Homo sapiens: one gene and its partners. The protein of the gene in region 3 purifies or fractionates together with the protein of the main gene of each other region. This does not show direct contact. Each region holds a gene or a part of one and is shown on either strand. Other genes may lie near its edges. The genes, in order: FLYWCH2, WNK2, SPATA1, VPS39, PCK1, WDCP and PPP4R3B.

Region 1 (3,500 bases), on a different chromosome or scaffold from region 3:
TTGATGCCCAGGCTGCAGTGCAGTGTAGTGCAGTGGCGCCACCTCGGCTCACTGAAATCTCCACCTCCCGGGTTCAAGCAATTCTCATGCTGCGCAGCCTCCTGAGTAGCTGGGATTACAGGCATGTGCCACCATGCCACCAATCCAAAAAAGAAAATAATTTTTGTATTTTTAGTAGAGACAGGGTTTCACTATGTTGTCTAGGCTGATCTCGAACTCCTGACCTCAGGTGATCCTCCTGCCTCAGCCTCCCTAAGTGCTGGGATTACAGGCATGAGCCACCACGCCCTGCCCCTTTGTCCTTTTTTTTTTTTTTTTTTTTTTTGAGGCGGATTTTGCTCTTGTTGTCCCGGCTGGAGTGCACTGGTGCAATCTCAGCTTACCGCAACCTCCGCCTCCTGGGTTCAAGCAATTCTCCTGTCTCAGCCTCCTGAGTAGCTGGGATTACAGGCATGTGCCACCAAGCTTGGCTAATTTTGTATTTTTAGTAGAGACAGGGTTTCTCCATGTTGGTCAGGCTGGTCTCGAACTCCCGACCTCAGATGATCCACCTGCCTCGGCCTCCCAAAGTGCTGGGATTACAGGTGTGAGCCACCATGCCCAGCCGCCCATTTTTAAATTGTTTGTTTGTTTGCTTGTTTATTACTGAGTTGTAATAGTTCTTTATAAATTCCAGATACAAGTCCCTTATCAGATATATGATTTGCAAACATTTTTTCCCATTCTATGGGTTATCTCTTAACTTTCAAAAGTTTTATGGCTAAAACACAAAACTCTTAAACTTAGTTGAAGTCCAGTTTATTTCTTCATTGGTTGTTTGTGCCTTTCATTATATTGAAGAAAGCTTTGCCTAATCTAAGGTTATGAGAATTTAGTTTTTCTTTTAAAAAAAAGTTTTATTACTGTAGCTCTTGTAATAAACTATAATTTTTTGTTTTTTTGTTGTTTTGAGACAGGATCTCACTCTGTTACCCAAGCTGGAGTGCAGTGGTGCAATCTCGGCTCACTGCAACCTCCGCCCCACTGGCTTAAGCAATCCTTCCACCTCAGCTTCCCAAGTAGCTGGGACCACGGGTGCACACCACCATGCCCGGCTTTCTTTTTTTTTTTTTTTTTTTGTATTTTTAGTAGAGATGAGGTCTCGCCATGTTGCCCAGGCTAGACCTGAACTCCCGAGCTGAAGAGATCTGCCCACCTCAGCCTCCCAAAGTGCTAGGTTTATAGGCATGAGCCACCATGCCTAGCCATATAATTTATTTAGAGTTAATTTTTGTATATGCTGTGAGGAAAGCATACAACTTCATTCTTTTGTATTGGATATTCAGTGGTCCTAGCATTTAATGTTTGTTTTTATTATTATTATTATTATTTTTTGAGACAGAGTCTTGCTCTGTCACCCAGGCTGAGGTACAGCAGCACAATCACAGCTTACTGCAGCCTTGACCTCCCAGGCTCAAGCAACGCTCCCACCTCAGCCTCCCAAGTTGCTGGAACTACATATGTGCCCCACCACCCTGGTTAATAATATTTTTTTTAGAGATGAGATCTCACTATGTTGCCTAGGCTGGTCTGGAACTCCTGGGTTCAAGCGATCCTCCTACATCACCCTCCCAAAGTACTGGAATTACAAGCATGAGCCACCACGCCTGGCCCAACATTTGTCGTTAAGACTATTTTCCCTCCACAGAACTGTCTTGCCACCTTTGCTGAAAATCAGTTCACCATATATATAAGAGTGTATTTCTGGACTCTCAGTTCTATTCTGTTGATCTCTGTGTCTGTGTTTTGTTTGTTTGTTTGTTTGTTTTTTAAGAGGTGGAGTCTCGCTCTGTTGCCCAGGCTGGAGTGTAGTGGCGTGATCTCGGCTCACTGCAACCTCCGCCTCCCGGGTTCTAGCAATTCTCCTGCCTCAGCCTTCCGAGTAGCTGTGACTATAGTTGCATGCCGCCACACTCGGCTAATTTTTTGTATTTTTAGTAGAGACGGGGTTTCACCATGTTGCTTATGCTGGTCTCAAACTCCTGAGTTCAGGCAATCCACCCACCTTGGCCTCCCAAAGTGCTGGGATTACAGGCATGAGCCACTGTGCCCGGCCTGTGTCGGTCTTTATGCCAGTACCACATTGTATTGATTACTGTAGCTTTGTGATAATATATTTTGAGATAGAGATGTGTCAGTCCTGCAAGTTTTTTTTTTTTCAAGATTGTTTTTGCTATTCTGGGTTCCTTGAATTTTCATATGAATTTTAGGACCAGCTTGTCAGTTTCTCCAAAAAAAAAAAAAAAAAAAGCCAGCTGGAATTAAGAATCTATAGATCAATGTCAGAAGTGTTGTCATCTTAACAATATCAAGTCTTCCAATCCATGAACATGGGATGTCTTTCCATTTGTTTAGGGCTTCTTTAATTTCTTTCAACAATGTCATGATCTTCTTGGGGAACCTGAAGCCCAGTAGGTGCTCCAGTCCTGTGGGCTGACCAGCTTGACCAGCTAAGCCTCTTATCCTGGAGGAAGTCCCAGGACTGGCTTCTTCTTGGCTACCTTGTCCTCCAAATGGAGAGTATGAGGAGATCTTCATAACCTTCACTTCTCTGAGATTCTGTGGAATTATTTCTCTGCAGCTTCATGAGCTAGAGCAAATATCATGGTTTTTAAGAGCAGAAGTAACTTTTTAAGTTAAAAAGTCATGGAAGCAAATTTATTATTGCACTACTTAGGAGGTGTGCATGGGACTAATTGTAGAAAAGAAATATTTGTCATTTTTGAAAATGAGGTATTAAACACTATGATTAACTGAAATTTGATATTCAGAAAAGTATCACTTGTGTTTTTCCAGAACGCATAAAAATGATTCATAAAACACAGTTCCTACCAGGCAACCTTTGTCAGGGCCATTTTGCTCAAAATTTGGTGTTTTTTTGTTGTTGTTGTTGTTGTTTGTGTGTGTGTATACATGTGTATACAGTCATTTTTCAATCTGTTCTTCTAACCTTTACTTTTTTTTTTTTTTTTTTTGAGACGGAGTCTCGCTCTGTCACACAGCTTGGAATACAGTGGCCCGATCTTGGCTCACTGCAAGCTCTGCCTCCCAGGTTCACGCCATTCTCCTGCCTCAGCCTCCCGAGTAGCTGGGACTACAGGCGCCTGCCACCATGCCCGGCTAATTTTTTGTATTTTTAGTAGAGATGGCATTTCACCGTGTTAGCCAGGATGGTCTCAATCTCCTGACCCTGTGATCCACCCGCCTCAGCCTCCCAAAGTGCTGGGATTAGAGGCGTGAGCCACTGCGCCCGGCCAACCTTTACTTTTAAAGAAAAAGCACTAGGAAAGACTATATTAAAAAAAAAAAACAACCTGAAAAAGAGCAAAGTTGCTTATGCTGGGTTTTCTGTGATAAAATAGTTAATGTTTTGGGTCATATTAATGCAGCTAGCTACTTACCTTTAAAAAAAACTTTTTATTTTGGAATTATTTTAGCTTTATAGAAAAGTCCGAGAGGCA
Region 2 (3,500 bases), on a different chromosome or scaffold from region 3:
TGGTTTGTCCATTCTTGTGGGTTTTCTGCATACACAGTCTTGTCATCTGCATGAGGCCAGTTCTCCTTCTCTCTGTCCAGTCTGTGCGGTTGACTCCTTTTCCTCCCCGCCTGGAGATCCCCGTGGTGTCGACTGGAAGCATGGAGGCACCTTGGGGAGGTATTGGGCATTTTGTCGTGGGCAGGGGCTCAGCTGTCGGTTCCATAGAGGACCTTCCAGATAAGGAGGCCCCTCCAGCCCCTGACTGCCGAGCTTGATTTCCAGGAAGGGTTGTGGAAGTCACCGAGTGCCCTCCATGCACCTGTGAAGAGTGCCCAGTGGGGCCCTCCCTGGAGTGGAGAGGAGTGACTCCCCGTGGCCAGCAGCCTTGCCTTCCTGGGGCACACCCCGCATACAGCTTCTCCCCGGGCTGGGACAGTGGAAGGGCTGCCTTGCCATCACCTCCCTGCACACTTGCTTTGCCCAGGTCCTGGGGCTCTGCTCCTGCCAGCTCCTGGGTGGTTCATGCTCCTGTGAGGGCACTGACCAGCCAAGCAGGAGGGCTTTGTGGTGGCTGAGTAGAGGCATGTGGGGTCACTCATGCGCCCTCAGGGTCCAGGCCCCACTAGTCCTCCTCCAAGTCCCATTTTGGCTGGTGGACACCCAGGTGTGTGGCCTAGAGGCTATCAGGCTGCAGCTTGGGGAAGCAAACAAGGGAGGGTGATGGTTCCTGGCCCCACACCATCATTCTGGTGTCAGCCCTGAGAGGGTGCCTGTCACAGCAGGTTCCAGGACTGCTGCCTCCTGAGGATGGAGAAACTGTGGCACCCTGGGGGCCACTAAGGGAGGCCAGCTGATTGCAGCCACGTGTACCTTCCTCTTCTCGTCTCTGTGTTTTGTAGATGACCGCACCTCGAGCAGGAGTGGGGATGCCACGTCTGCCCCCAGCGCCCGGCCCTCTGTCCACCACGGTCATTCCCGGAGCCGCCCCGACCCTGTCCGTGCCCACACCAGGTACTGCCCTCTCCAACCTCCCAACCCCACCCTGTGCGCTGCCTCTGGGTCAGTACAGAGGCCTGCTCCCAGCTCCAGTGTCCTGGGGGCCCTGGGCAGGCCAGGTGGGCCAGCTGGGGGCACAGGGCAGCTGGAACACCCCCCAGGTGCCCGTGCTGCCAGTCTTCTTGCAGCCACCTGTGGTCAGCATGCCTGGCCCCCGGCTGCGGATCACGTAGCCTTCTGCCCTGTCCCTTGCCAGATGGCGCCCTCGGAACCGCCCGGAGAAACCAGGTGTGGTTTGGCCTCCGAGTCCCCCCCACCGCCTGCTGTGGGCACAGCACTCAGCCGCGAGGGGGACAGCGGGTGGGCAGCAAGACTGCTTCCTTTGCGGCTTCAGACCCTGTTCGCTCCTAGGTTCCTGTGGTCCACGCGCCGTCTCCACACCCACTTCCTATACTTGAGTTGATGGTTAGAACCTTGTCGTCACCCTGCAGAAGTACAGTGCCTTGAATGCCAGCTTTTCCGTTCCCTGATGAAAAGATATGTTAAAAAAAATTATCGGAAAAGGTTTCATTTGCAATTGGCTTGTGCATTGATAATCTTTATTTACTGTTTTAAGTTGCAGAGATGTGAATGGTTTACAAATCTGAAGCTGAAGTTCAATCTTTGGTTTTCTGTTGTAAATGCCTTTTACAAACATTGAATTAGCTACCTTAAGTATTGAAGAGCTTCCATTGCTAGGTGAGCCCTGCTTTGTCCTCAGTAGAGTGCCGGTTCCCTGGGCTCATCCAGGGGCTGAGAGACGGCGGGACGCTGGGGCAGGGCACACTGGCGGAGCTGCTTGCTCAGTAGGGAATGTCAGTTGTTGCGCTGGGCCATGAGAAATCCGCCAGAAAACGTTAGGTGAGCAGACATGCCCCCCATGCCAGTGGGCTGCTGTGAGTGAGGATAAGGTGTGTGTTGGGCATAGAAACCCTGGCTGCCCGCCCACCCTGTGGAGACAAGTGCAGCTCCTCCAGCTGGAGAGGCTGCCCTCTCTCCTGCCCACTTCCCTCCCTTCTCCATGATTTCCATGGAGACCTGTGGCTCTGCTCACCCCTGGCATGCAGACCGCTCTCCCGTCCAGCCCTAAGCCTGCTCTGCGGAGGGCGGGGTCATTCTTCTCCTGGAGATTTCAGTGGGACTCGTCCCCAGTGGGCACAACACAGCCCTTGGTGGGAGGGGAAGGCCCCAGCCTCCTCCACCTCCCACTGGAAAGCAGACTGCTTGGGACTGCCCAGCTGTGAATTGTATAGTTTCTGTACTTATTAGAACTGGGTAAATTATTTTGGTTCAAATCTATTATTCCATCAATTCAGTTAGAATTGAATTTTCTAGGTGATTATGCAGAATCTTCTGCCAGGGCACGATGCTGTCGTAAGAGATTTCTGTTCTCTGTACTGGGCCCCCTTGCCCTGTTCCTTGAGTGAAGTGGGGGCTGCCCTCACCTGTCCCCCTTGCCTGTGAATCCCTTCCTTGTACATGGTGGTCAGTGGCACGGAATCCCCAATAGATTGTATATCTGAAGGAGAAAAATAAACACTTTTGCTCGAAAACAGTGTGAAACAACATCTTTTTCTTACCCTCTATCCATATAAAATCCAAAGCAACCAGCCTCCTAGGGAGCACAGGAGTTGGGAGCCAGTTCTGGGCTCAGCTGCATCCACACCTCTGGAGGAGGGTGCTGAGGGGCTGCGGGTGCTGGGCTGGGCTGTCCCCGGCAGGGGTCTGAGAGCAGGGCATCTGGCAGGGCTGCCTGGCCCCCAACACTGCCCCCGCCAGCTGTGGCCTGGGCCCCGAGCACGGTCAGCTCTGCTGGTCGGGTTAGCTGGCTGGGCTGCCCACCACTCTGCACCTGATTACACTTAGCAGTGCCACGGGCTGTGACCATGATGGAGGGAGCCAGCCTCCTGGTCAGCGAGACACACCTGCAGCCCCTGTCTCCAGGAGGCTTGGTTTGCATTACTTGCTGCAGCCCCTGGGGCCACCCTCTTTGCTCCAGATGGGCCGAGCTCAGGGGAAGTGGGAGCTCCTCAGATGAGCTTGGACTTGTTGAGAGGAGGACTTGGGGCTGGGGTTGCCCATGGATCATGCAAGGGGCAGTGGCTTTTCTGGTAGGCACAGGGGCCTTAGGGAAGGTGGCCATCCAGGGTGGGGCCTCATCCTGTGGGACTCAGCGCATGGTGGCAGCCAGCCCCCCAGCATCCCACTAAAGACAGCCTCGAGCTGACTGTGGTCCCTCCTGCGTGTGCATTGCAGGCCTCACTGTGAGCAAGCTGAGGGTCCCAGTGTCTCCTGCCCGGTCCACTGTGGGGGCTGCCTTGGCTGTGGGGCCACCTCCTCAGAGAGCTGCAGTGCCAGCCTTCGAGCTTCTGCATGGAGGGAGGAGGAACACTCATCCCAGAGCCTCCTGTTTTGGGTGTTGGAGGGCAGCTCACTCCCCAGATGCTCCAGACGGTACAGGAGCAGAGCGTCTGTTTGGGTTT
Region 3 (3,500 bases):
TTCACGCCATTCTCCTGCCTCAGCCTCCCAAGTAGCTGGGACTACAGGCGCCCGCCACTACGCCCGGCTAATTTTTTTTGTATTTTTAGTAGAGACGGGGTTTCACCGTTTTAGCCGGGATGGTCTCGATCTCCTGACCTCGTGATCCGCCCGCCTCAGCCTCCCAAAGTGCTGGGATTACAGGCGTGAGCCACCGCGCCCGGCCACTTTTTTTTAATTAAAAAAAAAAAAGAGGCCAAGTGCAGTGGCTCACACCTGTAATCCCAGCATTTTGGGAGGCCAAGGTGGGAGAATCACTTGAGGCCAGGAGTTCAAGACCAGCCTGGGCAATATAGAAAGACCCCGTCTCTACAAAAAGTAAAAAAATCAGCCTGGCATGATGGCACACGCCTATGGTCCTAGCTACTTGGTAGGCTGAGGCAGGAGGATTGCTTGAGCCCAAGAGGTCAAGGCTGCAGTGAGCCATGATTGTGCCACTGCACTCCATCCTGGGTGACAGAGCAAAACCTCGTCTAAAAAAAAAGAAGAATGTGTTCCTGCATTTTCACATTCATTAAGGAAAAAACAAGCCACAGATTACTAAGGTCAGGATTACAAAGAAACAGTATATGGTAGTATATACTGTCCTAAGATTCTATGTTACATATTTTTAAATTACAGGCATACCTCATTTTATTGTACTTTGCTTTATTGTGCTTTGCAGACATTAAATTTTTTGCAAATTGAAGGTTTATGGCAACTCTATTGAACAAGTCTACTGGTGCCATTTTTCCAACAGCAAGTGCTCATTTTGTGTCTGTGTCACATTTTGGCAATTCTTAAAATATTCCAAACTTTTTCATTATTATTATTATATCTGTTATGATGATCTGCAATCAGTGGTCTTTGATGCTACTATTGTAATTGTTTGTGGGCACCATGAACTGCCCATATAAGACTTAATAACAATATTTGGCTAGGCGCGGTAGCTCACGCCTGTAATGCCAACACTTTGGAAGGCCGAGATGGGAGGATCACTTGAAGTCAGGAGTTTCAAACCAGCCTGGCCAACATGGTGAAACCACATCTCTACTAAAAATACAAAAAATTAGCCGGGCATGGTAGGGCATCCCTATAACCCCAGATATTTGGGAGGCTAAGGCACGAGACTCACTTACACCTAGGAGGCAGAGGTTGCAGTGAACTGAGATTGTGCCACTGCACTCCAGCCTGGGTGACGGAGCGATACTCCATCTCAGAAAAAAAAGACTTAATAACGATATTGAAATTAGACTAATAACCTTACAATGGGAATTTTGCAATGAATAAAAAAGAGGAAGAAAATAGTTATAATTAGATTGTTTTCTGAAGTGACATTAAATGGCCTTCAAGGCTCACCAAAATGTTTCCTGAATTCTAAGAGCTTAAACAATGTGTTGGCCAGGTGCAGTGGCCCATGCGTGTAATCCCAGGCCTTTGGGAGGCCAAGGTAGGCGGATCACTTGAGGTCAGGAGTTTGAGACCAGACTGGCCTACATAGTGAAACCCCATCTCTACTAAAAATATAAAAATTAGCCCGGCATAGTGGCGGGCACCTGTAATCCCACCTATGGGGGAAGCTGAGGAGTAGAATTGCTTGAACCCAGGAGGCAGAGGGTGCAGTGAACCCAGAGGGCGCCACTGCACTACAGCCTGGGCGACAGAGCAAGACTCTGTCTCAAAAAAAAAAAAAAAAAGAAAGAAAGAAAGAAAGAAAGAAAGAAAGAAAGGAAAGAAAGAAAGAAAGAGAAACTAGAATCCCTCTTCCCTAAAATGGGTCATAGAAACTAGAGCCTCTTTTCCCCAAAACCAGCCATAAAGTCTAAAAATGTTACTCTAACCTTTCCCACCACCACCTTTCTGTGTAATAGCTGGCCATAAAGAAATTAAGACCCTCATTCCAGAGAGGTCCTACCCCATACCCATGAGAAGAAATCCTTCACAGAGAGGCCAAGAAAAATCTGAACAGACAGTCCTTGCTGAGTTTTCCCACTCAGTCTGTTTGCATTAGCTCATGCCCTTTATTCTGATCACAGTTCTACATAGCTGTCCATACTTCGTTGAACCTAAGCACAAAAATGGACAGTTTTTCCTGTATCTTTGGGTTTTCATTCTGAAACCTCCCATGTCGGGTAAAATTATGATCAAACACATTTTAAAAGGCAGAGACCCCTTTCTTCAAATAAATCTTATATTGGAAGAAGATGATGCCATTTAAGACTTTGCTAGCTAGACAGGAGAAGTCAATACCTGGCTTTAAAGCTCAAAGTACAGGCTGATTCTCTTGTTAGGGACTAATGAGGGTGGTAACTTTAAGTTGAAGCCAGTGTTCATTTACCATTCCAAAAATCCTATGGCACTTAAGAATTATGCTAAATTGACTCTGCCTGTGATCTATAAATGGAATAACAAAGCCTGGCTCACAGCACATCTGTTTACTGAATATCTTAAGCCCACTGCTGAGATGTACTAAGAAAAAAAAGAGATTTCTTTCAAAATATTACTGCTCATTGACAATGCACTTGGTCACCCAAGAGCTCTGATGGAGAACACAAGATGAATGTTATTTTCATGCCTGCTAACACAACATCCATTCTGCAGCCCATGGAACAAGGAGTAATTTCAACTTTTAACTCTTATTAATTAAGAAATAGATTTTGTAAGGCTGTAGCAGCCAAAGACAGTAACTCCTTTCATGGATCTGGCCAAAGTAAACTGAAAGCTTTTTGGAAAGGATTCACCATTCTAGATGCCATTAAGAACATTCATGATTCATGCATGGGAGGAGGTCAAAATATCAACATTAACAGGAGTTTGGAAGAAGTGGGTTACAACCCTCATGGATGACATTGAGGGGTTCAAGACTTCAGTGAAGGAAGTAACTGCAGAGGTAGTGGAAACAGCAAGAGAATTAGAATTGGAGGTGAATCCTAAATATGTGACTCAATTGCTACAATCTCGTGATAAAATTTGAATAGATGAGGAGCTACTTCTTATGAATACGCAAAGAAAGTAGTTTCTTGAGAATGGAATCTATTCCTGGTAAAATGCTGTGAACATTGTTCAAATAACAGCAAAGGATTTAGAATATTCTATAAACTTATTAATAAAGCAGCAGCAGAGTTTGATGGGGTTGACTCCAATTTTGAAAGAAGTTCTACTGTGGGTAAAATGCAATCAAATAGCATCACGTTTTACACAGAAATCTTTCGTGAAAGGAAGAGTCAATTGACGTGGCAAACTTCACTGTTGTCTTATTTTAAGAAATTGCCATAGCCACCCCAACCTTCAGCAACCACCACCCTGATCAGTCAGCAGCCATCAATGACAAGGCAAGACACTCTTCCAGCAAGCAGGTTATAACTTGATAAAGGCTCAGATGATCGTTATCATTTTTTTAGCAATAAAGTATTTTTAAATTAAGGTATGTACTTTTTTTAGACATAATGCTATTACACACTTAACAGACTACAGTATAGTAT
Region 4 (3,500 bases), on a different chromosome or scaffold from region 3:
AAGGTCACTCATTCCTTTCATAAACTCTCTTGATTCTTGACCTCTGTAAAATAAAATCTTGGATAATGGTACAAATAGATAACTTTTATTGAGCATGTATTGTGTTCCAGGAAATGCTAAACGCATCTGTTATTTCACTAATCCTCACAACTATCCCTTGAAGTAAGTCCTTTTTTCAAATCCCCATTTTATAGATGAGGAAGTTGAGGCCTAGGGAATATATAACTTTTCCAGAGTCACACATGTGGCAAGCAGCAGAGTTGGGATCCCAACCCCAATTTGTCTTGATTCCCAACCACATGCTGTGATGTACTTACTAAGGCACCCATGTCAAAAAAAATGGGTGTCAGCCAAAGGTTGTCTGAATGGCAGTAGTTATATTTATAAAAACAGGTCAGCACCTACATTCCTTATCCAAAGGATCAATAGTATTTCTCCAGGATGATGTTCTTAGTCATCCAGAAAAACAGAGTGATTCTATTTTCTTTGATTTGGGGTCTTAAAGGAAAGGCAGGTCACACACAAAAAAAATGTTGAAATCAGAAATAACAGCAGCTCTAATGAAGGCTGGAGATTTATGCTGCAGCAGAACATGAAAAAATAAAAGAATTCATTTTGCAATATTTGTTTTGTAAAAGATACTATATTTAGAACTTTATAGATATCATGATATCAAGCAATTTAGCAATATTAAAGTTGATTTTTAGGCCACCCACTGATATTTCAGATATAAATAAAATGAAGTGGAAATTTTTTAAAAATCCACTCATAACATACATAAAAATCTACAACCAAAACAAAAGGCCAACATAATGTTCATCATCTTCCCCATCCTTCTCTCTCCACTCTGTCCCCCAAATCCCTGCCAGTTCCTGCTTTTCTTTATCTTTTTTAATAGCCTCAGCTTCCTCCCAAGTCGGCCAGGGTCTATCAATTCTACCTGTAATGGTACCTCATGACAGCCTCCTCCTATAGAGTCTCTCTGGGGACCCCTGTGACACCTTCAACTGGTCTCATTCACTCCATGCATTCTCTCGCATTTGCTGTCAGTTATCTTAGAGCAGATCTCTGATGCTGTCACACTGGGGCTTAAAAAATCCTGTGAAGCTACACTACCAAAATATGAAGTCAAATTCCTAAACATGACATTCAAGAGTCTATTTTCCATTTTTATTGAAATGTTTCTTGCCAATAGATTTTTTAATTTACTTTTTTTTTTTCTTGTGAACCCAAACTAAGACATGACAAAACATTTTAAAAAGTCAAATGTCTAGGGGCCGGGCACGGAGGCCGAAGTGGGCGAATCACTGGAGGTCAGGAGTTTGAGACTAGCCTGGCCAACATGGTGAAACCCCGTCTCTACTAAAAAATATAAAAATTAGGCCGAGTGTGGTTGGCTCATGCCTGTAATCCCAGCACTTTGGAAGGCCAAGGCGGGCAGATCACCTGAGGTCAGGAGTTCAAGACCAGTCTGGCCAACACAGTGGAAACCCATCTCTACTAAAAATACAAAAAAAATTAGCCAGGCATGGTGGTGTGTGTGCCTGTAATCCCAGCTACTCAGGAGACTGAGGCAAGAGAACTGCATGAACCCCGGAGGGAGAGGCTGCAGTGAGCTGAGATCGTACCACTGCACTCCAGCCTGGGTGACGGGGCAGGACTCTGTCTCAAAAAAAAAAAAAAAATTAGCCAGGTGTGCTGGTGAGCACCTGTAATCCCAGGTACTAGGGAGGCTGAGACAGGAGAACCACTTGAACACTGGCGGCGGAGGTTGCAGTGAGTGGAGATTGTGCGCCATTGCACTCCAGCCTGGGTGACAAGTGTGAAATTCTGCCTCCAAAAAAAAAATTAATTAAAAAAATAAAATGTCTATTCTACTGGTCATAAAAGGGAATCAATCCGATGGATTAAATTCTCTGTAAACTTTTAAATCAACCTGATTGATTACATGTGCCATTAGCCAGAGGACCTGTCCCATGTTGGGTCCTCCACTCTCTAGGACACGTTATTTAACAAAGCTGTGCATGCACAACACAGAGGATGACAAGCCTGCAGAGCACGCGCAGCATGGGATGGACAGTGCCTTCTGAGACTCAATACAGTAACACACAACAGAAAGTGAGACATACTAAGCAAACACAAAACGCACACATAAGCAAAGCAGTATCAGCCCTAAAAAACTCCTGACGGCCTAACCCTGAGCCACAAGGTTGGACTTAATTCCTCCTGAGAAGGAGGGCTAGGCCCTATTGCTCATAATTACCCTAATGGAGCTCCTTCCAACAGTGCAATGCAGTCCAACTTCATGTAATAAATTCCATTTCTGGCCCAATGCTGGCCACTGCAGGGACCACAAAGATAAGTAAGATAGTAGTCACTTCCCTTCGTTGGGTAACATGGCAAATAACAGTACTTCTCATCTGGGCATAAGCCCCCAATTAGCTGCATTAGAATCACCTGGACTTATTAAAAATGCACATTCCTGGGCCCTGCACATGGAGATTCAGATTCAATGGCTTTGAAGTGGTACCCTGAAATTTACATTTTAAAATTTAATCTTGTTGGCTGGGCAAAGTGGCTCACGCCTGTAATCCCAGCACTTTGGGAGGCCGAGGTGGGCGGATCACCTCAGGTCAGGCGTTTGAGACCAGCCTGGCCAACATGACGAAACCCCGTCTCTACTAAAACTACAAAAATAAGCCAGGTATGGTGGTGGGTGGCAGTAATCCTAACTACTCGGGAGGCTGAGGCACGACAGTGGCTTGTACCTGGGAGGCAGAGGTTGCAGTGAGCTGAGATTGCACCACTGCACTTCAGCCTGGGCGACAGAGCGAGACTCAGTCTCAAAAAATAATAATGAAATAAAATAAAATAAAATAAAATTAAATTAAATTTTATTTGTTTTTATGAAACATTCATGTAGTTCCAAAGCTAAAACGACGAAAAGTCTAGTTTCTATCATTGTCCATTTTATCCTCTCTTCTCCCTTCTGCTATGGGCATCATTTTAGTAATTTTTGACTTATCTTTCCATTGTTTCTCTGGAAAATATAGGTATGTATGTATATATAGACATACAGATACTCATATATACATGTGAAGTCTGCATTTTTTACAGGCTTTGAATATACATTCAAGTTTGAGAACCAGGCTCTAGAAGCAGACATGATTTACAGGACATGTGACCTTGGAAAAATTTCTTAAATTTTCTAAGCCTTAGGTCTTTCTTCTGTAAAATGGAGTCTTATTTTATAAAAGCCTAATACAGATTAGCATTTAACAACTGCAAGCTATTACTATTCATATTAACATTATTCATTAAATATATATTTAATGAATACCCATTGAGTCAGGAAATGTTTTAGGTACTGCAGATATAGCAATGCAGAAAACAAAGATACTGCCCTGAGGGAACTTATATTCTAATGTGGAGTGAGAGAGGCAATAATAATTAAATATATAAAATAACAGTAGATGGTGACCCATGATTAGAAGATAAGG
Region 5 (2,256 bases), on a different chromosome or scaffold from region 3:
TACACCATTGTTCCTTACCTTTACATAATTGCAATATTTCCCCCTTACTACTTCTTGGAAAAAAATTACAAAATGAAGTTTTATAGAAAAGATGGATTTGCTTTGCTTGGTTTTTCTTATTTGAGCTACCAAGAGGAGAGAACTCTGATTAAATATCTTGTGATTTAAATCCTGCCCCCTCCCCAAGAAGGTGGGGACGTTCAGAATCACACTTGAAGAGGGGGTGCATTGCCTGGTCCCAGGGAGAAGGAGGGAGCAGATGGGGAGGAATGAGGCAGGGAACCATGGTTGGGGTTTTCTGAATTTGCTGAAGCCACTAGTTGGCATCCTTTAACAATTCTACAAACCTTTAGATGGTGAGGCTTATGTGGCAGGACTGGGAGGGTTTAATGCATGCTTTTTGACAGTTTGGATCTGGAGGGGTCTCAGGCTTCCACAAAAATTACATTGTGGACAGTTTCATAGGATTTTGCCTTTTAACTCTTCAAAGCAACAGTTTTCTCAACTGTCATCCCCGCGGGGGAGCAGAGGAAGACAAGTGAGAAGGAAAAGGGGACAGGATCTGGGTTGAGCAAGCATTAATTGAGCGCCTTCTGTATCCCGGACATCATGCCAACACCATGGGCTGCCCGAGAAGAGAGGTGGGTGGTTTGGTCCCCAGCTCTGCCTTGAACCCTCACCTGCTCTCCTCTACTCCCAGTGTTTATTGGATATTCCAGAACAGTCCAAACGAACCATAAACTTTATATCACAGATTCAATCTGTGTAAATACTATTATCTTCAAGTTGTAGTTTCTTTCTTGGGCCCAGGCTGTGAAATTGGCTTCACCCCTACCACACCCCAGCGGGCAGGCTTGTTCTTATGTCACACTCCACCCCTCCAGTCTCCTCAACTGGAAAACTTGCCTCTTTTCCTCACTTCCTCTGCTCCTTACAATGGCTTCATATGGAAGGTGAAGCTGAGATCACCCCAATTTTACAGGTGAGGAAACTGAGGTCAAGCTAGGAGCGTCCAGCGGGGCTGAGAAATTGCCAGGATTTCCTTCCCCATTAAGGAGCTGAGAGTCTTAGCTCCAGACACGTTGGCTTGTTAGAATATCAAAACCACCGAAGGGGAAAAACCACTTACTGGAATTAAATGCTATCTGCTGTATTAGTTTAAATCAGTGGCGTTCAAACTTGTTTCTCCTTTTCACTGCGGAACACGTTCTTGACATGTACTTGACTCAGAGTCCCATGTCTAAAGGAGACAGAGCCCAAGGCAGCCCACCTGAAGCTGGGGAGGGAGTCCAAAGTGCAAGCCACCTGGTCTCCATTTCCCCGCCCCTTGGGGGCCTTTGGGCAGCTCCTTGGACCCCTGAAAGAGGCCACCAGGATAAACTTTGTTAAAATGCATGCCTTGTGCCCCACTGTCCTATTACGGGCTTTCAGTAGTCTCCACTCCCTCGGCAGGCAAAGACACTGGCCATCTCCAAATTCCCTCCCCTCCTGCACAGCATCAGCCACCTGGCAAGCAGTCTCACATAGGACCATTTGCCAGCAGGCCCTGCAAGCCTGGGGGACAGCCTAGAGGAGGTGACTTACATACACAGCATAAGAGTTTTCAGGAGACCAAAAAGATTCAATATATGTCATTAACTCCTGACTCAGTTTCCCCAAACCATGCCTCCTGAGTGCTCCCTCTGTCTCCAAATCCTGATTTTTGTGCGCGGACCCCTGTCTACAATAAACAGGATCCTATGACTTCTTTCTTCAATGTTCTCTTGTCGTGCCTTCAGATGATGCAAAGTATGTAAGCTAAGCCCACTTGCAGGAAGCTCACAGAAGGCAAGAGGCTCATCACTTGAAAATACGGTTGGAGTGAGATGGAAAGCCCAGAGTCTCCTGATTCCTGGTCTACCACTGGACCACATGACTCCAAAACCAACACTGTGACTGACGTCCTCTACTGGAGTCCAGTGTAAGAGCTGTCCCCTGACCTCCAGGAAGCTGTGTTGCAGTCTGGGTTAAAGACCAGAAAACAATAGTTACACAGCAAATGTTGAACCAGGACAACAAACCTGCCCTTATTCCCAGTCGAGTCACTTAGGGGGCACTGACAGGTAGGCAGGCGGGGTGGCTAGGTGGGGCCGGGGCACACTTGGGAGTCAGGAGTTACAGGGCTCTTTCTCTTCTCTCCCTCTCCCTGGGGACCCACCCTAACCTGGACACCCCCGGGCTGCTCACTCGGCCCTCTGGATGCCAACAGCATGCACC
Region 6 (3,500 bases), on a different chromosome or scaffold from region 3:
ATGATTTTTTTTCTAAATATAAATTGCCCGAATTAGTGCAGACATTTATTTTTCCACGTCATGCACCTGATAAAATCATGATGCAGACTGATATGTGCGCCTATCTGGTTGGCAGGCTAAAAACCAACCAACCTGCAAAGGTGTACCAACTTGCCTGTAACATAACATGCCCAGCTTAGTGAAGCTCAGTTAGAGCACCATCTTCCTCATCAATACGTTTCTTGCAGTACTCACCGGCTGCAGGAGCTTTTATGTATAGTGGTAGTTCCTCAAAGGAGAATTTACCTGGTAAATGATGTGAACATAAGGAAGATCTTGAGAGAGTGGATACACTGAAGAGGATTTCTTCCCATTATGCAGACGGTTTGTAAGTTCAGAAAGACACCGTTGCATTTCAACCAGGTTCCTAGATAAAATTTCCACTTCCTTAGACAGCTGATAAGTTTCCTTTTCACTTTGTAAGTTCTTTCTTTGAGGCAAACGAGGAGGCTCCAGTGTGCTGGTGTGGTCTGGTGTGCTGCTGTGTCTGGGCAGCGATGCTGGCTGGGTAACAGGCTCAGCATCTAGAGCTATGGAGCCATCACAGATACTAGACAGAGGACTCTGGATTTCTTTAATAAGTGTTCTTCCAGGCCTTCCATTCTGACTACTGGTATTAACTGTCAGCAACAGCCCTTTGTTTTGGTGACAAAAATCTGGGGAAAGACTTTCAATTAACTTTTTTCTATTTGCTTTATTTAACGGAGCACTGAAAGTAGAGTAGGTAGTCTGGCTTTCACCTGATGTTATTGAAGGTTCTTCTTCCAACATTATTTCTCTAACAATCAAGCTAATGGCATACTGATCAGACTTTGAAGAAGGAAGAAATGTTGTATCAGTGAGTTTTTGTTTTCCTACCAAAATTAGTAATAGTTGGTCTGTCAAGAAACATATCCCTTTTGGTCTTTCAGTGTTCTCTAATCGAATTTGCTGGATGTTTGGGACTGAAGATGGAATGACAGAGTAGATCAAAATTATATTACAAGTGTTGGAAGCCACTGCCACTACGTGGGCTTTAAGATTAAATGCTATCAGATCAGGAACCAGAATGCCTGGAATAGTGACTTTTCTCGTCATGGTAACTGCCTTCTTAAAGGTCACAAGGACCAAATGTGAAGAATCTTGGCCAGTTCCTGTCAAGTAGTCCTTTTTTCTTAGACAAATAAGAGAATTACCCTCAGACTTATGTTGATTGAAATGTATGTGAGTTAGATCCAGAGGTTCTAAATAGGAAGAAGAAACTGATACTTCAGAATTTGTTTCAGAATCAGTTGCCTCTTTATCCATAGAGCGTACTTCACCAATAACTGGTAAAGCATACGGAGTCATGTCTTTACTGTTAGGTGGGATATTAAAGGTTTCAGATGCATTTAAGCCACAGATCTTATCCAATGGAAGCTCAGTAGCTATAGCAACCTGTGAGTCCACAGTTGCTGTGATGGAGCAGACGTGGCTGTCCACATCAAACACCAGGCAGGAGGAGCACCTGTGAAGAGTCTTCTGAGCGCTGTCCCAAATATAAGAATGCAGGCTGCTGCCTACTGCCACCACCAGCCTCAGGCCATCCTGGGTCCAACATGCACAGTGAATGCGGCCCTGGGTGTTGATGTCTGCCTTTACCTGGGAATCATCAGAGTGAACATTAGGGAAAATGGAGACATCCTGAGCAGTCAACACAGTCAGAATAGCACATTTTGGGTGCCACACACAGCCCTGGGGAAGGATAGGTAGTGATCCTCTAATCTCACAAGTCTGAGACGTCAGCCATTTGCTTGACTCCATAGGGCTGGGACACAGCTGCCACACAGTGACATGCTTCTCATGCTGGACAGCGAGTAGAACAGGTGTATCATCTGCAACAGGTGGGGCCCAGGACAACCCACAGACACATTCAAACTGTCCAATGACTTTGGAGTCCCCAAACTTGACCTCTCCACTGTGAAGCCGCAAATCAGTTAGGACAACTTGATTCCCATCGGTCCAGGCAAGGCCATGGATCGGATGCACTGCTTGATGCAACGCATTCAGTCCAGTCCTGAGTAGTTTTCCTTTTCCCAACTCCATCCTTTTGATAAAGGTTACCTGAAATGATTAAGAAGGAAAGTTACACCATGAGAAATCTAGACAAATCTAGAATGTAGGACATTTGGTAAGACAACGGCTTAGCCCCTTCCCAGGTTAATAATGTGGAGAGACAAAAGGACAGGGGGAGTATTATAAATTAAGAGACTACTGAGCTATCAGGCAAATGCAATGTATATACTTTGGATCTTGAAGAAATAAAATCTTCTACCTAATGAAGATTTTTAGAACTGGGGAAATCTGAGTATGGAATGGATATCAGAAAATATTGTAGAGTTATTATTTTTCTTCTTTTTTTTTTTGAGACGGAGTCTCACTCTTGTTGCTCAGGCTGAAGTGCAATGGCACAATCTCGGCGCACTTCAACCTCTGCCTCCTGGGTTCAAGCGATTCTTCTGCCTCAGCCTCCAGAGTAGCTGGGATTACAGGTGCCTGCCACCAGGCCCAGCTAATTTTTTTTTTATTTTTAGTAGAGACGGGGTTTCACTATGTTGGCCAGGCTGGTCTCAAACTCCTGACCTCAGGCAATCCACCCACCTCAGCCTCCCAAAGTGCTGGGATTATAGGCATGAGCTCCCGCGCCCGGCCAGAGTTATTAATTTTCTTAAGTGTGAACATGGTATTGTGGTTATGCAGGACAAGGTCCTTATTATTTAAATAAGCATGTTGAAGCACTTGGGGTAAAATGTCATGATGCCTACAATGTGCTTTCAAATGGTTTGACAAAAAAAACCCAAATTTTCTATAGACACACAGAAAGAAAACAAATGTAGCAAAATGTTAATAATTGTAGAGTCTAGATTGAGGCTATGTTAGTATTTATGGTACTTTCAACTTTTAAGTTAGAAAATTTTCCAATTAAAAATTTAAGAAAAGTCTCCTCCATCATCTAATTTCTATTCGTCCTTTCACTGCCAAATCAATGAATAACTGATATGCACATCTCTGACTTTATTAGCACTTATTTCAAATCCTTCCAAAGTGGCTTTTATCCCTCTATTGAAATGACACTCAAAAATCACTGTTTCTATTTCTACTTCTACTTCATCTTATTCAACAGCACTTAATAATTTTCAGAACATTTTCACATTCCCTATTGCATTTTATCTTACAATAATCTTTTAAAATAATGTAAAGTAGGTTAGGCAAGTATTATCTTCATTTTTTCACCCTGAATATTTTTCCCCCAGGCATTTGAATCACTAAAGAAGCATATGCTTAGGGCTGGGCGTGGTGACTCACGCCTATAATCCCAGTACTTTGGGAGGCTGAGACGGGAGGATCACCTGAGGTTGGGAGTTCGATCCCAGCCTGACCAACATGCAGAAACCCCATCTCTACTAAAAATACAAAATTAGCCAAGTGTGGTGGTGCATGCC
Region 7 (3,500 bases), on a different chromosome or scaffold from region 3:
GAAACAACCAGATCTCGTGAGAACTCACTATCACAAAAATAGCAAGGGGGTTTTCTGCCTCCATGATTCAGTCATCTCCTCCAACACCTGGGGATTACAATTCACAATGAGATTTGGGTGGGGACAAGAGCCAAACCATATCATTCCACCCCGGTCCCTCCCTAATTTCATGTCCTTTTTACATTTCAAAACCAATCATGCCTTCCCAACAGTCCCCCATAACTCATTCCAGCATTAACTCAAAAGTCCAAGTCCAAAGTCTCATATGAGACAAAGTAAATCCCTTCTGCCTGTGATCCTATAAAATAAAAAACAAGTTAGTTACCTCCAAGATACAACGGGGGTACAGACATTGGGTAAATGCTCCCATTCCAAATGGAAGAAATTGGCCAAAACAAAGGGGCTACAGGCCCTGGGCAAGTGCAAAGCCCAGCAGGGCAGTCTTTAAATCTTAAAGCTCCAAAATAATCTCCTTTGACTCCATGTTTCACATCCAGGGCATGCTGATACAACAGGTAGGCTCCCAGGGCCATGGCTGGCTTCGCCCCTATGGCTTTGCCAGGTACAGCCCCCATGGCTGCTTTCATGGGCTAGAGTTGAGTGCCTGTGGCTTTTCCAGGTGCATGGTGCAAGCTGTTGGTAGATCTACTGTTCTGGGGTCTGGAGGATGGTGGCCCTCTTCTCATGGCTCCACTAGGCAGTATCCCAGTGGGGACTCTATGTGGGGGCTCCAACCTCACATTTCCCTTCCGCACTGCCCTAGTAGAGGTTCTTCATAAGAGCTCTGCCCCTGCAGCAGATTTCTGCCTAGATATCCAGGCATTTCTATATGTCTTCTGAAATCTAGGTGGTTTGAGAATCAGAGGTTACCAAACCTCAGTTCTTGCCTCTACCCCACAGGCCCCGTGTCACATGGAAGCCACCAAGAGTTGGGGCTTGCACGCTCTAAAGCCATGGCCCAAGCTGTACCTTGGCTCCTTTTCGCCATGGCTGGAGCTGCAGCACCTGGGATGCAGGGTGTCCCAAGACTGCACAGAGCAGCAGGGCCCTGGGCCCAGCTCACAAAACCATTTTTCCCTCCTAGGCCTCTGGGCCTGTGAATTAACATTTGGCTCCTTGTTACTTATTCAGATTTCTGCAGCCAGCTTGAATTTCTCCCCAGAAAATGGGGTTTTCTTTTCTACTGCATGGTCAGGCTGCAAGTTTTCCAAACTTTATGCTCTGCTCCCTTTTAAATATAAATTCTAATTTCAGACCATCTCTTTCTTCATGCATATGAGCATACGCTTTTAGAAACCGCCAGAAGGCCTCTTTTTTTTTTTTTTTTTTTTTTTTTTTTTTTTTCTGAGATGGAGTCTCTCTCTGTTGCCCAGGCTGGAATGCAGTGGCATGATCTCAGCTCACTGCAACCTCTGCCTCCCAGGTTCAACTGATTGTCCTGCCTCAGCCTCCCAAGTAGCTGGGACTATAGGTGTGTGCCACCACGCCCAGCTAATTTTTGTATTTTTAGTAGAGACAGGGTTTCACCCTGTTGGCCAGGCTGGTCTCCAACTCCTGACTTCGTGATCCGCTTGTCTCAGCCTCCCAAAGTGCTGGTGTTACAGGCATGAGCCACTGTGCCCAGCCCAGGCCACCACTTGAATGCTTTGCTGCTTAGAAATTTCTTCCACCAGATATCCTAAATCATCTCTCTCAAGTTCAAGTTCCACAGATCTCTAGGGCAGGGGCAAAATGCCGCCAGTCTCTTTGCTAAAGCATACCAAGTATGACCTTTACTCCAGTTCCGAATAAGTTCCTCACCTCCATCTGAGACCTCCTCAGCCTGGACTTCATTGTCCATATCACTGTTAGCATTTTGGTCAAAACCAGTCAACAAGTCTTTAGGAAGTTCCAGACTTTCCCATATCTTCCTGTCTTTTTCTAAGCCCTCCAAATTGTTCCAACCTCTGTCTATTACCCAGTTCCAAAGTCGCTTCCACATTTTCAGGTATCTTTTTTTTTGAGATGGAGTCTTATTCTGTCATCCATGCTGGTGGGCAGTGGCACAATCTCAGCTCACTGCATCCTCTGCCTCCAGGGTTCAAGCAATTCTCCTGCCTCAGCCACCAGAGCAGCTGGGATTATAGGTGTGCACCACCACCCCCAGCTAATTTTTGTATTTTTAATAGAGAATAGGTTTCATCATGTTGGCCAGGCTGATCTTGAACTCCTGACCTCAAGTGATCCACCCTCCTCAGCCACCCAAAGTGCTGGGATTACAGGCGTGAGCCACTGCGCCCTGCCATTTTCAGGTATCTTTATAGCAGTACCACATTCCTGTTACCAATTTTCTGTATAGTTCGTTTTCACACTGCTCTAAAGAACTACCTGAGACTGTAATTTATGAAGAAAAGAGGTATAATTGACTTAAAATTCCACATAGCTGGGGAGGCCTCAGGAAACTTGTGGCGGAAGGTGAATGGGAAACAAGGCATGTGTTACATGGCAGCAGGAGAGAGAGAGCAAGGGGGGAAGTGCCACCCTTTGGAACAACCAGATCTCGTGAGAACTCACTATCACAAGAACAGCAAGGGCGAAATCCACCCCCATGATCCAGTCACCTCTCACCAGGTCCCTCCCCTGACATGTGGGGATTACAATTTGATTTGCGATTTGGGTGGGGACACAGAGCCAGACCATATCATCACTGTACACATCATGTTCTTTTTCAAAAGTTCTTAGGAAACAAAGGCAATTAATTTTGGTGTTATTTTTTTTTGTTTTTTTGGTTTTTTTTGAGACGGAGTTTCGCTCTTGTTGCCCAGGCTGGAGTGCAGTGGTGCGATCTCGGCTCACCACAACCTCTGCCTCCCAGGTTCAAGTGATTCTCCTGCCTCAGCCTCCCAAGTAGCTAAGATTATAGACATGCGCCACCACACCCGGCTAATTTTGTATTTTTAGCAGAGACGGGGTTTCTCCATGTTGGTCAGGCTGGTCTTGAACTCCGGCCTTGGGTGATCTGCCTGCCTCAGCCTCCCAAAGTGTTGGGATTACAGGCGTGAGCCACCATGCCCGGGCAGCAATGTTTTATAAGTTTTTTAATTACTGCTGTTTTTAGATGTTTTGACTTAGCAGTATTTATTGATATACGTTCAAAATTTTACTTTTGCTTTAGCAAAAGAAAGTGAAGACAAGGAAAACCTTCCCAAAAGGACATCTCCTGGTGGCTTCAAATTTACTTTCTCCCACTCTGCCAGTGCTGCTAATGGAACAAACAGTAAATCTGTAGTGGCTCAGATACCACCAGCAACTTCTAATGGATCCTCTTCCAAAACCACAAACTTGCCTACGTCAGTAACAGCCACCAAGGTAGGTGAAACAGCATTACACACAAACTTTGCTTTTCCCGTCTGTGAGATTTTTTCATGTTTACTGAAAAAAATTTGGATAATCAAAACAATTTCAATGAATTGTTTAGAATTTTTCTGTTACCAAAATGTTGATTGTAGAATTTTATTTTA

The links.
Region 1: the proteins of SPATA1 (region 3) and FLYWCH2 purify together in Homo sapiens (affinity purification with mass spectrometry; one large-scale study listed by BioGRID and IntAct). This does not show direct contact.
Region 2: the proteins of SPATA1 (region 3) and WNK2 purify together in Homo sapiens (affinity purification with mass spectrometry; one large-scale study listed by BioGRID and IntAct). This does not show direct contact.
Region 4: the proteins of SPATA1 (region 3) and VPS39 purify together in Homo sapiens (affinity purification with mass spectrometry; one large-scale study listed by BioGRID and IntAct). This does not show direct contact.
Region 5: the proteins of SPATA1 (region 3) and PCK1 purify together in Homo sapiens (affinity purification with mass spectrometry; one large-scale study listed by BioGRID and IntAct). This does not show direct contact.
Region 6: the proteins of SPATA1 (region 3) and WDCP purify together in Homo sapiens (affinity purification with mass spectrometry; 2 studies listed by BioGRID and IntAct, with this or other methods). This does not show direct contact.
Region 7: the proteins of SPATA1 (region 3) and PPP4R3B purify together in Homo sapiens (affinity purification with mass spectrometry; one large-scale study listed by BioGRID and IntAct). This does not show direct contact.

The regions. Positions count from the first base shown.
Region 1 is NC_000016.10:2,886,215-2,889,714, forward strand, and holds part of FLYWCH2 (FLYWCH family member 2), read left to right. Parts: intron 1-3,500.
Region 2 is NC_000009.12:93,316,639-93,320,138, forward strand, and holds part of WNK2 (serine/threonine-protein kinase WNK2), read left to right. Parts: intron 1-881; coding exon 882-993; intron 994-1,234; coding exon of another isoform or gene 1,235-1,436; exon of another isoform or gene 1,437-2,570; intron 2,571-3,500. UniProt on the Homo sapiens protein: Serine/threonine-protein kinase component of the WNK2-SPAK/OSR1 kinase cascade, which plays an important role in the regulation of electrolyte homeostasis, cell signaling, survival, and proliferation.
Region 3 is NC_000001.11:84,558,386-84,561,885, forward strand, and holds part of SPATA1 (spermatogenesis-associated protein 1), read left to right. Parts: intron 1-3,500.
Region 4 is NC_000015.10:42,201,805-42,205,304, forward strand, and holds part of VPS39 (vam6/Vps39-like protein), read right to left. Parts: intron 1-3,500. UniProt on the Homo sapiens protein: Regulator of TGF-beta/activin signaling, inhibiting SMAD3- and activating SMAD2-dependent transcription.
Region 5 is NC_000020.11:57,566,366-57,568,621, forward strand, and holds the end of PCK1 (phosphoenolpyruvate carboxykinase, cytosolic [GTP]), read left to right. Parts: 3' UTR 1-1,756; downstream 1,757-2,256. UniProt on the Homo sapiens protein: Cytosolic phosphoenolpyruvate carboxykinase that catalyzes the reversible decarboxylation and phosphorylation of oxaloacetate (OAA) and acts as the rate-limiting enzyme in gluconeogenesis.
Region 6 is NC_000002.12:24,037,392-24,040,891, forward strand, and holds part of WDCP (WD repeat and coiled-coil-containing protein), read right to left. Parts: intron 2,122-3,500; 5' UTR 2,104-2,121; coding exon 286-2,103; intron 1-285.
Region 7 is NC_000002.12:55,558,623-55,562,122, reverse strand, and holds part of PPP4R3B (serine/threonine-protein phosphatase 4 regulatory subunit 3B), read left to right. Parts: intron 1-3,154; coding exon 3,155-3,348; intron 3,349-3,500. UniProt on the Homo sapiens protein: Regulatory subunit of serine/threonine-protein phosphatase 4 (PP4). May regulate the activity of PPP4C at centrosomal microtubule organizing centers.